3 separate regions of the Homo sapiens genome follow, and all the other regions are reported to be linked to region 2. Evidence: microRNA targets listed by miRTarBase, many of them from high-throughput screens and not tested one by one. Region 2 holds a microRNA gene; each other region holds the end of a gene's coding sequence.

Region 1 (5,231 bases), not on the chromosome of region 2:
CCAGACAGCATGGCAGGTGCCTAGAATTCCACCAGCAGAGCTGCAGGAGGAGCCTGCCACCGGGGAGGTGTATTAAAATATAATGTATTAATAGGAAGTCTGAGGTCCAGTAAGGCCACCAGCTCAGGAGACACCTGCCATTGTGAATAGCTTCTCATATACACAGATCCCTAGAGAGAGGACACATCACAGCTGGGGGCCACCTGGGGAAGCACCAGGGTCTGTTATGAGTCAGAGTGGTGGGGAGGGGGGACTGTGGGCCAGAGCCTTTATTATGGTTTCTGTGGAAAGGAAAGGTCAAGGCCAGGTGAACAGGCTTAGGATTGGGAAGTGTGAAGCATTTTTTGGGCTCTGGGGCACAGGGGCTGCCCCTCGCTGTCTGACACCTGGCCTTGGGGTGATTAGTACAGGATAGTGGCTTGGAGTACAAGAGCCCAGTAAGGCAGGTCGCTGGAGGTGTGGACTCCAGACTGGTTGGCTTGTATTTGAAAATCACACACTCAATAGGTGGAGTCCACCCAAGGACAGGTTGTGAGAAGAGAGGCAGGAACTCAAGGCATCGTGAGTCAGGCATATTATCAGGTATGCAGAGGGATTCAAGTCCAGCATACACACGCAGGGCAGATGTTAAGGCATCAAGATGACAGAAGGTAGAAACACAGCTCATGTAGCTGGCGGGGACAGAGGCTCACATTCCGCATGGGCTTTGCAGCTTCAAGCAGTATTGGAACAGAGGAGAGCCCAACAACGTTGGGGAGGAAGACTGCGCGGAATTTAGTGGCAATGGCTGGAACGACGACAAATGTAATCTTGCCAAATTCTGGATCTGCAAAAAGTCCGCAGCCTCCTGCTCCAGGGATGAAGAACAGTTTCTTTCTCCAGCCCCTGCCACCCCAAACCCCCCTCCTGCGTAGCAGAACTTCACCCCCTTTTAAGCTACAGTTCCTTCTCTCCATCCTTCGACCTTCACAAAATCTCTGGGACTGTTCTTTGTCAGATTCTTCCTCCTTTAGAAGGCTGGGTCCCATTCTGTCCTTCTTGTCATGCCTCCAATTTCCCCTGGTGTAGAGCTTGTTTTTCTGGCCCATCCTTGGAGCTTTATGAGTGAGCTGGTGTGGGATGCCTTTGGGGGTGGACTTGTGTTCCAAGAATCCACTCTCTCTTCCTTTTGGAGATTAGGATATTTGGGTTGCCATGTGTAGCTGCTATGTCCCCTGGGGCGTTATCTTATACATGCAAACCTACCATCTGTTCAACTTCCACCTACCACCTCCTGCACCCCTTTGATCGGGGACTTACTGGTTGCAAGAGCTCATTTTGCAGGCTGGAAGCACCAGGGAATTAATTCCCCCAGTCAACCAATGGCACCCAGAGAGGGCATGGAGGCTCCACGCAACCCCTTCCACCCCCACATCTTCCTTTGTCTTATACATGGCTTCCATTTGGCTGTTTCTAAGTTGTATTCTTTATTTTATTATTATTATTACTATTTTTCGAGATGGAGTTTCACTCTTGTCGCTCAGGCTGGAGTGCCATGGCGCGATCTTGGCTCACTGCAACCTCTGCCTCCCGGGTTCAAGTGATTCTCCTGCCTCAGCCTCACGAGTAGCTGGAATTACAGGCAGGCGCCACCAGACCCGGCTAATTTTTTGTATTTTTAGTACAGATGGGGTTTCTCCGTGTTGGTCAGGCTGGTCTTGAACTCCCGACCTCAGATGATCTGCCCGCCTCGGCCTCCCAAAATTGCTGGGATTACAGGTGTGAGCCACCGCGCCTGGCCTATTATTTTTTGTAAGAATAAAACAGGTTTATTGGGATTTGGGACTCTGAACAGTTCTGTCTCTACTACCTGATCTCCTCCTACCACGACTTTGGGATCTAGAGGAGCTTTGGCTCCGGCTGTGACGGCTCCGGCCGTTCTCACTGCGGCTGCACCGGCCCCCGCTGCGGTCACTATTTCTTCCTCTGCTAGGTGAATTGTGCCTCTCCTGGCTCTTTGACATGTGCTAGTGAGATTTCTTCCTTTTCCTTTCGGATTCCCCATTTCTTTTGTAGGAATGGTCTGGACTAGGGTTCTCCTTCCCCGCAGCCTGTAGTATTCATCGTGGTGGCCCACCCTCTCTCTCCCCTTGGAGCTCTTGCCAAAGGAGGAGACAAGCAGAGGTCTCTATTGGATTTCTCAACACCTGAAGAAAGTTGCAGTGTTTTCCTCTTGGACATTGTTGTATTTCAAATAAACCACAAATCATCATTTTCCACCGAGCCACTGGGCAGAATTCACACTGAAGCTGTCGTCCTGCGTACATACCATCGTCCGTTAAACAGAGAAAGAGCTGCTTGGCATTCTTCTTCCGACTGGTACTGAACATATATACTTGCCCCTCAGGTGAGGTTCCAAGTTGCAACTGACCTTGAACTGAATCACTCTCCCCACGTTATTTTTTAATTACTATTTTTTTTTAAAGATGGGGTCTTGCTCTGTCGCCAGGCTGGAGTGCAGTGGCGCGATCTAGGCTCACTGCAACTTCCGCCTCCCGGGTTCAAGCGATTCTCCTGCCTCAGCCTCCCGAGTAGCTGGGACTCCACTAAAAGTACAAAAATTAGCTGGGCGTGCACCACTGCGCCCAGCTAATTCTTGTATTTTTGGTAGAGACGGGGTTTCAACATGTTGACCAGGATGGTCTCGATCTCTTGACCTCGTGATTCGCCCGCCGCGTCCTCCCAAAGTGCTGGGATTACAGGCCTGAGCCACCGCGCCCAGTCTCTCCCCACGTTCTTGAACTCGGGCAGCACATCCTCACAGAAATCTAGGAACTGTTGGTAGGTTTCTTCCTCGCTGTACTCCAGGCTTGCTTCGGAGTCATAGTCATCCCTCCTGCACTGCTCCTTTCCAAACACTGTAAACATGCTTTTAATAAGAAGGGTAGGACTGGATGTTGGGAAATCATGTGAACATCTATCTCCAAATCTGCAAGCTCCTGTTTTACTGTAGAAGGGACAATTAACTCCATCCTTCTCCATGACTCTGAAATCCAAGGGGGGGTTCCGGGTTTTGCCATGTGGCGCCATTTTCCAACTCATTTTCAGCCTGATCCAGCATCTTCTGGACAGCTTCCGGTTTTTGTTTCTTCTGTCGTTTCTGTTCCTCCTCCTCTCTCTCTTTCCTCTGCTGTTCTTCCCATTGTTCCTTTAACTTTCGCTCTTGTTCTTGCCGTTTTCTAGCCACCTCTTCCTTTTCCTTCTTTATTCTGAATTCTTCTTGTGCCTTCTGCTCTCTCAGCAACCACTCCTCATGTAATCTTTGCCTCTCTCTTCCCCATAGCTTTTCTAGTTGTTGTTTTTCAATAAAAGTGTCCTCCTCTTTCTGTGAGAGTCCTGAGTCCCTCAGTGGAGCAAGTTCCTGCTGGCGTTTCTTTCGTTTCTCCTTCTTCAGGGCGGCCCTGTACTTTTTGTGGCTTGGTTTCTCTGGAAATGTCACCTTTTCGGGCGCAGCCATCTTGCCGGCACCGCCCCGCCCCTCTAGTTGTATCCTTTATAATAAACTGGTAAACATTGTAACCGCAGATTCAGCCCAATCTGGTTCAACTTTGTGTAATAAAATGGCGAGTTGTTTTTCAGTTGTCGTGGACCCCCAGGTTGCAAGTTACATACCCTGGGCATGTCCAGATGAACGAAGCGTGCAAATCCACGTGGAACCTAAGTGCTCAGACCGAGGAACAGGGACTGAGTTAAGAAGTGGACACCACGTGGCATGATCCTTGATCCAATCAGATTGAGCCCTGGCGTGATCCAGTCAGATCAAGCCTCCTGAATCCCCTCATTACAAGATCCAATCATATCATGCCTCACTACCCTCTGTATATAAAATCTGCCCCAGCCTCCAACTTGGAGAGACAGATTTGGGCCAGACTCCTGTGTCCTTGCTTGGCTGCCTTGCAATAAATTTTTCTCTCTACAAAACCCCAGTGCTTCAGTGTTTGGTTTTCCACTGTGAGCCAGGGAACTGACCCAATTTAGTTCGGCAACAACATAAGCAAAATGTTTTCCCGAGTTCTCTAAATCATTCTAGGAAATTACTGAACTTGAGATGGACTTATGGGAAGCCACAATTTTTTGCCAGCCTGGCAGAAGTGTGGGTAGACAGTGCAAAGACTGTCTTTGCACCTGGCATCTGAAGCAGGGTCAGTCTTTTGGGACCTAGCCCTTTAATTTGTGGAATGTGGTGCTAACTCCAGGAAGCTAGTGTTAGAATTAGAGAATTTCTTTGGTGTAAATAAGACACCACAAACATCACTTCCTTTCTACTGATGTTGACCCCAAAGATGCACCTTCATAAACAGCTTGCAAGCTAAATTCCGTCTTACTTAAGAGTTGACCTTCAACAGGCAGAGGAACTGTGAGGCTTGTTCTATGTCGTCTCCCAGAGGCTCCCAGGGGGATTGGACCCAATTGCCCTTTTCAGCTCATTGGTGCCTTTGTATTGGGTTCCTTCCTTTCCCTACCTGCTCCTCTTCATTCTTCCCATCCCCTGCTGATGCTTCTTGGAATCTCCTCCCAGATAAGCTACTTATATCCAAATCCTTGTCTCAAGCTCTTTAGTAGGGGAAACCCAAGCCAAGCTTATATTTTGATAACTACCAGGCATGGCTCCTTTTATGTGGGAGACAAGGTCTTGCTCTGTCACCCAGGCTGAAGTGCAGTGGTGCAATCATGGCTCACTGCAGCCTTGACCTCATGGGCTCCAGTGATCCTCCCACCTCAGCCTCCTGAGTAGCTGGGACCACACGTGTGCATCACCATATCTAGCTACTTTTAAAAAATTTTTTGTAGAGATGGGGTCTCACTGTGTTGCCCATGCTGTTCTTGAACTCCCGGGCTCAACTCATCCTCCTGCCTCAGCCTCCCAAAGTGCTGAGTTTACAGGCCTGGGCCGCTGTGGCCTGCCTGGTCATGGCTCTTCTCTATCAAAATGTTCTCAGGTATTCTTGTGCAATTTTTGGATGATTTTTGAGTCTACTCTGGCTTTAAAGGTTTTCATTTACTTGTGGAATAAGTCACGTGTGCACACAGAACCAAAACGTATCAATCTCTACAGTGAAAACTAAAGCTCATTCCGTCCCCGTTTTCCCATCTCAAGAGGTTACTGTCCCCACTTGTAGCTTTGCTATTTATTCCCAACTAAAGAGTATAACCTCTTTATTATATTCCAAATAATGAGCTTGTCAAGTTTG
Region 2 (5,231 bases):
AATTTTCATATATTTTATAATAAGATATTCTGGAAGAAAAATGATGGTAGCTTAGTTTTGAATTTTCCTGCTTCTCTTCTAAAATTTATAGGGGGATGTATTAGTGTCCTAAGACTATCGTAACACGGTATCACAACCTGAATAGTTTAAGCAACAGAAATTCACTGTCTCACTGTTCAGGATGTTAGATGTCTAAGATCAGGTCTCAGCAGTGTTGATTTCTTCTGAGGGCTCTGAGGGAAGAATCTGTTTCAGGCCTTATGCCTGGGCTTTTAGATGGCCATCTTCACCGTGTACTCCTTCACATGGAGATGTGTGTATGTGTGTGTGTGTGTGTGTTTCTCCAAGTTTCCCCCTTTTCAGTCATATTAAATCAGGGCAGAACTTATGATCTCATTTTAACTTGATTACCTCTGTAAGACCCTATCTCCAAATAAGGTCAGTTTCTGAGGTACTGAGGATTATGACTCCAACATATGAATTTCGCCGATGGCACACAATTCAATCCATAACAGGCAAAGTGTTGCATTGCTATGACACAAAGAGACAAGGAGGGAAGAGAACTTAGAAATCACCTAATAAAATGCGCTCCCAGGAAGAAGATGGCATCATATAGCGTAGGAACCAACGTGCTCAAAGCTGAGCTGGAACAATGCATCAGTCAAAGAGTAGACAAACAGAAATGCAGGGTGTGGAAGAGGGAGGAGGAGAAGACAAAAATTTAAAAAAACAGAACTCTAAAATGCCACCATAGTAAGTGTATTAAAATAAAAATTTAAAGCCTCTAACTATGGTAGAATAACCAGATGTGAACTTGTCTGTTTGCCTTACAAAAATAGGAAACAGGATAAAACGTAGAACTAATAAATTGTCAGATATTTTACCATAAGCAGCACAGAACTATGAACTCTAAGAGAAGAGAGAAAATTGATGTAAGTTCGGTTATTACTCTGACTTTCTGTCTGAAGGGATTTTCTTGAACTTGATGCAGAGAGGTATCCAAAGCACAGCATGACAATCTCCTTGATATGAGGAGATAGAGATAGAATTTCAGACAGGTGGGTTTGGCTGGAAAATTGCAGAGCATGTATTAGAAAGAAGTATGATGTACAGACAATGGCTTTTATCTGCTTCAATCTGTTGCACAATGTAAACCACACATGCCGTGGATGAACATCTAGTAATAGTGTATAGAAAATCAAAGATAACTATGTTCACAGATTTCTCATTAGAAAGTATGCCAGGACGGGGCATGGTGGCTCATGCCTGAAATCCCAGCACTTTGGGAGGCCAAGACAGGAGGAATGCTTGACCCCAGGTGTTTGCGACCAGCCTGGCCAATATAGTGAGTCCCAGTCTCTAAAAAAAAAAAAAAAAAAAAAAAAAATTATATATATAGCCAGGCATTGTGGTTTGCGCCTGTAGTCTTGGTTGCTCAGGAGGCTGAGGTGGGAGGATGGCTTGAGTGTGAGAGGTCAAGCAGTGAGCTGTGTTCATGATGCTGCCCTTCAGCCTGTCTGAGATTGAGACTCTGTCTCAAAAAAAAAAAAAAAGAAAGAAAGAAGAGAAAAGAAAAGAAAGCAAAAAGAAAGAAAAAAAAGGAAACTATGCCAGGCAGTAGACAATAAAATATCTTTGAAGTAGGAAGGAAAAATAACCATCAATCTAGAATTTTATATAGAGTAAAATATCTACAACAAATCAAGGTAAAACTGATACTTTTCCCAACAACAAAAGTTAGAGGAATTTATCACTAACTAAATTGAACTAGATGAACTATTACAGTTTTTAAGCAAGGAAGCTGTTATTTGATGGAAGCTAAGGTATACATAATCAAACAATGATTACCAATGTAGAAGTTTCCTTTCATTTTCTGAAACCGTTTTTGGGACATAACACGCTGCTTATACTGTGTGTTTATATGGTACAGTATTATGTTAAAATAAACTAATAACATAAGGATATATATTGTGAACACAAAACAACCATAAAAATAGTTATAGTTGATTAACAGTATTTAAAATGAAATACAAAAATAATAAAAGACTGACAAAGAGCAAGTAAAAAGCAACAACAAAAATAGATGGAATAAGTAATAAGCAAGGACAAAAAAAAAGAACTATTGTTCCTTCTTTCTTTTCCTTTCCTTCTGTGTCACTTTCAGCATAGGTAGTTAAATAATGCAGTAAAGTAACAGAGAAAATAAATTATGTAATAGGGTTCCATGGTTGTTTGTGTTTATTGGAAAGTCACTGCTTGTTTGCAATTGAATTGAGTTCTGGTTTTGAATGGAAAGTGTAGCCTCTTGGAGTTGTCAACCTTGCTCACTCATTTATAGACATAAAATGCTTATCTTGTACTCAGAGTCTTGCTGAACTTTCAAGCACTGTGGGTCCACAAGAATTCTGCGTTCACGTGGCATCACAAACGCTGTATGTGAATAGAACAGTAAGAAACTGAACATGTATATCACAGACATCTCTGCTCACACTTGTACTCAAGTGTCCCATCATACTGCACTTTTAAAACACAGAGGTAAAATTATTTAAAAATTTAAGGCAGTAATAAGAGAGTGTTAAATCAAAAACAGGGCACTTCTGAGCATGAAATCTTGTATGACTGTACAAGGTACAGTGCATGAAGCTGGCCCTACATGAACAAAACGAATTATTTCCTTCTAAGTTCTAGAACAAAGTAGAGATATCCAGTCTAACCACTGAAATTCAATATTGCATCAACATTCTTGCCAATGCAATATGAGAAAGATAAAAATTAATACAACACATGCCATTAGTAACAACGTTAAAAACATGAACACAGGAATAAACTTAGCATAATGTATGCCATACCTGTTTACTGAAATCTTCAAAACTTTGCTGAGAAAAATAAAACAAGATCGAAATATTAAGATTGGTGTGAAAGTAATTGCAGTTTTTACGATTGAAAGTAACGCAAAAACTGCAATTACTTTTGCACTAACCTAATATATTGCAATGTATAATGTGATTACAGATTGGAAGGCTTAATGTTGTTATGATAGTATCTCTCCCCAAATTGATCTATATGTTCAATGCATATTTAAAAAACAATTGTAGCAAAGTTCTTTGTAGAAATTGTTAAGCTAATTCTAAATTTTATATGGAAATCCAAAGGACATATTATATACAAAATGATTTCTAGGAAGAAGAACAAAATTAGATGAGCAGCACCTTTTTCTTCCAAGACTCCCTATATACTCCTTTTAGGCACCAGTCATAGAGGTAGTATGGCTGAGGTTTACAACTGGATGTATAGATAATGGAACAGAATAGAAAATCCAGAAACATGTCATTTTTTATGTGCTTAAATTTTTGAAAGTATTTCCATGGTTATTCAATGAGAAAAATTATAGTCTTTTAAACAATTTTATCCCAGAGGGAATGTAAGTATATTTAAAGACAAAAAAGAAACCTTAACTTATAACATGTCTGCACATGCTCATATACAAGAGGTATACAAGAATAGATGGAAGAGGAGTAAGATAAAAATACCAATTAAGGCCTTTGGACTAACAAGTGATGGAGTCTTTTTTTCCTGCCACTAACACTTTTCGTATAACTTTTTCCCCTAGAAATTGTAACTAGCCACAATTTGAAAATTAGAGATTGACAGTGAAGTGTATTAGTCAGTTTTCATACTGCTGATAAAGACATACCCAAGACTGTGTACTTTATAAAAAAGAAGAGGTTTAATGGACTCACAGTTCCAGGTGGCTAGGGAGGACTCACGAACATGGAGAAGGCTAAAGGCACGTCTTACATGGTGGCAGACAAGAGAGAATGTAGACAGACAAGTCTACATTGTCTTGGCAGACAAGTGAAAGAGGAAATAAATCTTCAGATCTCGTGAGACTTATTCACTAACAGGAGAACAGTATAGGAGAAACCATCTCCATGATTCAATTATCTGCCATGAGTCCCTCCCACAACACGTGAGAATTATGGGAGCTACAATTCAAGATGAGATTTGGGTGGGGATGCAGTCAAACCATATTAGTAAGTCTCCCCTGCATTATGGTGTACTGTTAGTGTGTCACTCATATCATATCAGATTCCTTAAACATTTGTTTGCATAAAGTCCCCATGTAATTCTATTCCCCATAGTAAGTACCTGCTTCTCTAGCACCATGTACTATGTACTATGCACAAGTAGCCAGAATCAGATTTGTCTACAGAATTGGAGAACTATTATCTCCGAACTTTTGTTCTCCTGCTAACAGCTCTTAAACATTGAGAGATGTGTGTAGAGGCTTAAATACTCCAAGCGCTTTTTCTCTAATCAGGAATAGACTATTTTTGAAGGATTGAGTAAAAGCTGTTCTTTGCAGGACTTTTCTATTATCATACTCATTTTTGGACTCCTCTCATGTCCTGTCTCATTTCCCCATGTGGTTATCAACTTGTCTAGGGATAATGTAAAATAACACATATCATGCTGGTCTCAGGACAAAACTCCATTTATTACAGTTGGTGCAAAACAGTCAGATTTTATGCCTATGATGCTGGTATAATTATTATACCATGATATTGACCCATTTCACTCCAAAACCCCTTCTAGTTTGTATAATAATTTATACAGTCATCATTTTATAATGTGAAATAGTCACAACCACAACCACATTCTACCCAGGAGAGAGAGTGTAGAAAAATCTATGATAATTTAGGAAAGAAAGAGTCAGACAAAGCAGGTGCTCTTGAAGTTTAAAAACAAAACACATTTTGAACATGCAAGAAACTTTGTGAATACTGTTTGCGGAAGCCTCCTTGACAACATTATGAGGGGATGAACTCCAGGTGGAAAGGAGTAATTGCTATTTAACAAATAAATGAAAGAAAGGCTAAAGTTGACAGAATAGATTATATATTGTATATGCTCTGATAATGTGGAAATAATTCATCTAACACAAAACGGAACAGATGGCTTTGATAAGAAGATAAAAAATAAAGTTAGTTTTCTGATTACATCATCGTAATTGCTAGATGTCAAAGGGTATTATTTAAAGCTACAAATCAAATAGTAAAAGATCAAGTCTATTTAAGGAAACAATGAAAAACACTCGAAAGTTATTGATATCTATTAAATGTGGGTGATGGTATCCTGGAAAGGGGAAAGGAAAACTATACAACTTCATGTTCATGGTGTTTAAAAGAATTGAAGAAAAAGGATATTTTACAAACGTAAAATCATTCATG
Region 3 (5,231 bases), not on the chromosome of region 2:
GCTGTTTGTCTCCTGATCCAAAAGGCCCAATTTCTCAGAGTAAATAACTTCAGATTTTTGTGTATCTATGAGAGCTACCTTTTATTCTTTACTACCCACTGTCATCTTACTTCTGCCCCTTTGCAATTTTTTTTGCATCTTAATATAAACTGCTTTATCTTTATTAAAAGCGAACTAATTTTCAACCATATTTCCTGAAGAACTTTTACTTCTGGTCATTAGTGATGAAACTCCTGAGATGAGAAAAGAAAGGAAAAACATAAAAATAATTGAATTTTTGCTTTTCTTTACAGACACTCTGGAAAACGGATCCAATAAGGGTGAAAGGTGAGCAAAATGTTCCCATTGGCCGTTCCTGCTTTTCAGCGATGGCATTTTCAATGCAAACTGCAGTGAGTTTGATCGTTTACTTTCTGTTTTGCTTAACTCCAGCGCAGCTAACAGAAAAGGACCAAGCAAGGATGACACGTATTGGAAGGAGATCAACGCAGCTATGGCCTTAACAAATCTTGCACAGGGAAAGGACAAACTGCAGGGAACTACCAGCTGCATCATCCAGAAGTCGTCCCATATAGCAGAAGTAAAGACTGTCAAAGTGCCGCTGGTGCAGCAGTTTTAAGAGCTTGTTGCTTTTCAGATCCAATGGATGTTCTTTCCGGTGTTTTCATCAACCCTCATCCTAAGAGCCGAAGCAGGGATGAAAATGACTCTCTCCCAAACCTCTTCTTATTTTTAATTATCCCAAATATATCATTTAGTTGCTTCTATAAAAGACATATAAATTATAAAAAACTCATTTTAATCAAAAATATTAACTTATTTTATGTTACTCAAACTATGCATAAAACATCTGCATTACCATTACAGTAAGTGCCTTGCTTCCCGACAATAAGCTCCAACGTGGGCATAGTTGAACAAGCTATGCCTCAAAATGCCAACGCCATATGCTTATTAGCCTGTGTGCATCATTCCAGACGGGCCTAATCATTCCAGGACTGAAACCAGAATCGCTGAAAGCCCTTGAAATACATTCAATAATTCATATGTTAAAACTTGGATATCTGTTCAGCCCAAATGAAATCTTCCTTTTAAAAAACGTCTACATTATTGAAAATTGTTCAATGTGCTTTTCAGAGTGACGGTGAGAATTTTATGCATGTATCTTGCCTGCATATTTGATATGTTACAAACTTCCAAAATTCAAGGTGCAGCGATCCACAGAACGTTGTACATTTAAGAAGTGATTCCTTCAAGCTAATTTAAAATTTCATTGAACACATGGTGACCAGGAAAACTTTTTTTCAAGCACTGTTGGAAAGCACCACAAAGCCCTTTAGAATTAATCTGGATTTGTTTCTCAAGTTCTGCTGAAGTTTAAAAAAAAACTTTATTATACAAATAACTCAAAATTTTCCTGTGTAAAACTAAACCTGTAGTTTTAAAACATAATCCTGTTTGCATTAGAGCTCACTGTCTTTTTGTGATGGAAACTGTGTTCGTATGGAATGACTAAAAATCTTTTATTTGGTTTGTTTCAAATTACAATTGCTGATGGACAATTTGTATTGCAGCGAGAACAACAGAATGAAAGAAATGTATCTCTGTGCGGCTATACATATACATACATAAAATTGATTTTTAAATTTAAAACATATGGAAAACAAAACATTGAACAGTTTGAATTTTGCCAAGTTGGACATTAAAGTAAAAATGAAGTGAAATCATGCATTGAAAGAAAACATTTTGTTTCTAAATTAGTCTACCATTGAGTGAGAATAATCAATATCAAGAAAGAAGACTATCTTTCTCAACTAAACAATAATATTCCAATCAGCTTGGGAAGACCTGAAACTTGAATAAGCAGTGGAAATGCCAAATATAACAGAGGGTATGTGCTACAGAGAAGTAAAAAGGGTTTGACTTTTTATGATGGGATTTTTTTTTTCTGGGTATGTAATCTATTTTTTTTTTAAACTGGAAAGCATTTTTGTCAGTGTGAATGAGGGTCAATAGTGCAGCCAGTGGTGACATTTTTCTTTATTTTGCAAAATGCTTTTAAAACCAAAGGCTGCTCTAGTTGATGGACAGTATCAGTCTTGATCTAAATTGTAGGACACTTTTTCATGTAACATAACATTTGGGGATTGGGTTTATTTAGTGTAATGAAGATAATTTGATATAAAAATATTTTGTGTATATATATATATTTTTACTTTGTTTTCTAAATTGCTGTTTGCAGTAACAGTAAGCGCAAAGCAAAATATATAAGTTATGACTGTATGATCAGATGAAGTATGAGTTCTTTTGGTTTGCATCCTTAAATAGTTAGAGATCTCTGATAAAAACTTTGGAATCTTTGCAAAACAATACAAAAATGCCAAAATGTGAGCATGTCAATGAAAACTAAAGACAAATACTTCACTCTTTTTCATACTATTATAAGTTATTCTGGTATTAAATATGTTAATAAAAGTGTTTTTGTTTTGACATATTTCAGTTAAATGAATGAATGCTGGTTGTATTTTATTTGAATGAGTCATGATTCATGTTTGCCATCTTTTTAAAAAAATCAGCAAATTTCTTCTATGTTATAAATTATAGATGACAAGGCAATATAGGACAACTATTCACATGATTTTTTTTAATACCAAAGGTTGGAAGATTTTATAATTAACATGTCAAGAAGACTTTATAGTAAGCACATCCTTGGTAATATCTCCAATTGCAATGACTTTTTAATTTATTTTTTCTTTTGCTGCTTTAACATTTTCTGGATATTAAAATCCCCCCAGTCCTTTAAAAGAATCTTGAACAATGCTGAGCCGGCAGCTGAAAATCTAACTCATAATTTATGTTGTAGAGAAATAGAATTACCTCTATTCTTTGTTTTGCCATATGTAATCATTTTAATAAAATTAATAACTGCCAGGAGTTCTTGACAGATTTAAAATAAAAGTTAATTTCTAGACCTCGATGATCGTATGGATTTTGTTTTCCTTTGAGAGCTGACCAGGTAGATGAAGCAGTAGAACAGACGGGCCCATTATATTCAGCAATTCTCCTTAGACTGTTAAGGGATATGATATGGGAGTGCTGCATTTGTATTAGGTTTGAATTTCATCACCTTAGGCCACCAATCCAGCTTTCAAAGACTGAGGAAAAGGGAGTGTGATGCCGACTATTAAAATACCTAACTTTAAAATGAACATTTTCAGGTAATACCTTCTTTCCCTCACTAATACAATTAGCATTATTTGTGGTGTGCTCTGCACTGGAGAGAAAACCTTGGCTTTGAAGCTAGACAGAACTACCTTTGAATCTCAGCTCTGTCCCTTACTACTTAGTCATTCTTATCTAGTTTCTTCATCTGCAAAGTGGGAGTAAGGAGCTATACCTTGTAGGGTTTGCACTAAGATTGAGATAAAATGCAATACATAAAGTGCCTACCTCAGTGTCTGTCAGATAATAGGTGCTTGGTAACTGGAACATATTATTGCATAGTTACAATTCCTCTATTCAGGCTTTATGCACAAGAAAGTAGAAATATTTAAAATAAATGGAACATAAGACATGGGTAGTTTAATGGACAGCTGTAGAGAGGGAGAGATGCCTGACAAGAAAAGCTGCTGTGCAATGGTGAAAATTGGTATCAGAGTTAGAAAGGCCTTCAAGGAAGATCATTTTAGCATCATCACTTAAAACTTCCAGGCAAAAAGCATAAAGCGTTGCGAAGCCAAGGCAGAACAGACATTCCAACAGAAAACACGATATGTGCTGTCACTTCCTTCTTTGGGATAAACAAGAATTGCTTTCCCTCTGTTTGTCCTGCTTGATACTGTTCAAGATGGCTAAGAAAAACTCAAGCTGCTGCCTGTGTTCTCCGTCTGCTCCAAGTAGCAATGTTTAACAAACAGTGGCAACAGCCATAGCCTGCTTTTAAACTTATCCAGCTCAGTGGTGTCACAGCATGCAAATAAACACAGAGAAGAAGAGCAAGCCACCCATGCTGTCCTGCCAGGGATGGCATAGGAAAGTCATGCCTTGGAAGGCGGTGTGTTGTGGTGGTAAGAACCTGGGCTGGCATGCTCTGGCTTTGCTACTTCACTTCTTAGTACCTTTGGGAAATAAGCATAAGCCTTCTTTCTATACCCATTGTTTGCACCTATAAAATTAGACCTGTGAAATTTACCTACTCCAACGATCTGTTGTGGGGAGTCAATGAGGCAGTCGATATAAAAGCACTTCGCAAACTGCATGGCACTGTACAAATGTTAGCGATTATGACCGTATTCCACGCAGCCCTAAAAGGCCTCATGTCTCACACTTTCTGGCACTGTAAACTGTAGTTTCCATGAAGCATATAGGACCCCTAGATTCTGTCAAATGTGTGTTAGGGTCACCATCATTGGGTCCTTGTGAGCACTAAGAACTTCTTGGTCCTGTTTTTTTTGTTTTTTTTTTTTCTTCTTGAGATGGAGTCTTACTCTGTCGCCCAGGCTGGAGTGCAGTGGTGCGACCTCGGCTCACTGCAGCCTCTGCCCCCCCAGGTTCAAGCGATTCTCCTGCCTCAGCCTCCCGAGTAGTACAGGCATGTGCCACCACACCTGCCTAATTTTTTAGTTTTAATAGAGACAGGGTTTCACCATCTTGGCCAGGCTGGTTTCGAACTCCCGACCTCAGGTGATCCACCCGCCTCAGCCTCTCAAAGTGCTGAGATTACAGGCGTAAGCCACCGTGCCCAGTCAGTCCTGCTCTTCTTTGTAACCATTATGATTGGAATTAGAAGATAGATTGCCACACTGCAGGAGTAGAATCCTGACTTCACCACTCCGAGCTTTGAGACCCATCTTAGAGATGGACTAAAACTTTGGTTTGGGAGAAGTGTGAATTGGCCACAATAAACTTTTTCTCTCAAGGAGAGGAAAAACAGATTTCTGAGTTTGGAAACAAAAAAAAAGCTGAGGTGTTTTTACATTTTGTACAAATGACTCCATGCGAATTCACCCCAGGTAAGATGGTCTCACTAGGTCTTCTACAACAAATTTTAGTCCAAAGCCAGTTTCTGGAAATTTGACCTACAATGAGTCTAATCTGACAGATATTTTTGACTTTTAAACAAAATTAAAATTTTTAATTACAAGTGTTTTAAAAAATTATAGATGTAATTTATGCTAATTGTAGAAAATTGTAAACAGTATAGAAGGGTACAAGATAAAAAGCACCTACATGGG

What was found. Region 2 holds the annotated microRNA hsa-miR-548x-5p (UGCAAAAGUAAUUGCAGUUUUUG, at 2,953-2,975, opposite strand). A microRNA usually pairs through its seed, bases 2 to 8, with sites in the 3' UTR of a target mRNA and lowers its output. Matches are read on the target gene's strand: a 7mer-m8 pairs with bases 2 to 8, a 7mer-A1 pairs with bases 2 to 7 and ends in A, and an 8mer does both.
Region 1: the mRNA of CD209 is a reported target of hsa-miR-548x-5p. Seed matches in the 3' UTR shown: 7mer-A1 at 1,316-1,322.
Region 3: miRTarBase lists MKX as a target of hsa-miR-548x-5p. Seed matches in the 3' UTR shown: 7mer-A1 at 2,041-2,047 and 7mer-m8 at 2,750-2,756.

The regions. Positions count from the first base shown.
Region 1 is chr19:7,738,722-7,743,952 of GRCh38, reverse strand. CD209 (CD209 molecule) reads left to right here. Exons shown (of 7, transcript NM_021155.4): 7 at 713-3,960. The coding sequence ends at 914. It also overlaps the pseudogene LOC100129391. Among named protein-coding and RNA genes, the nearest start is that of CD209, 6.2 kb to the left of the region's middle. RefSeq lists an enhancer at 406-505.
Region 2 is chr21:18,683,183-18,688,413 of GRCh38, forward strand. MIR548X (microRNA 548x) reads right to left here and starts at 2,982; the gene lies at 2,908-2,982. All of the region lies in intron 2 of MIR548XHG (MIR548X host gene), which reads right to left.
Region 3 is chr10:27,670,617-27,675,847 of GRCh38, reverse strand. MKX (mohawk homeobox) reads left to right here. Exons shown (of 7, transcript NM_173576.3): 6 at 294-327; 7 at 433-2,974. The coding sequence ends at 619. Among named protein-coding and RNA genes, the nearest start is that of MKX-AS1, 71 kb to the left of the region's middle.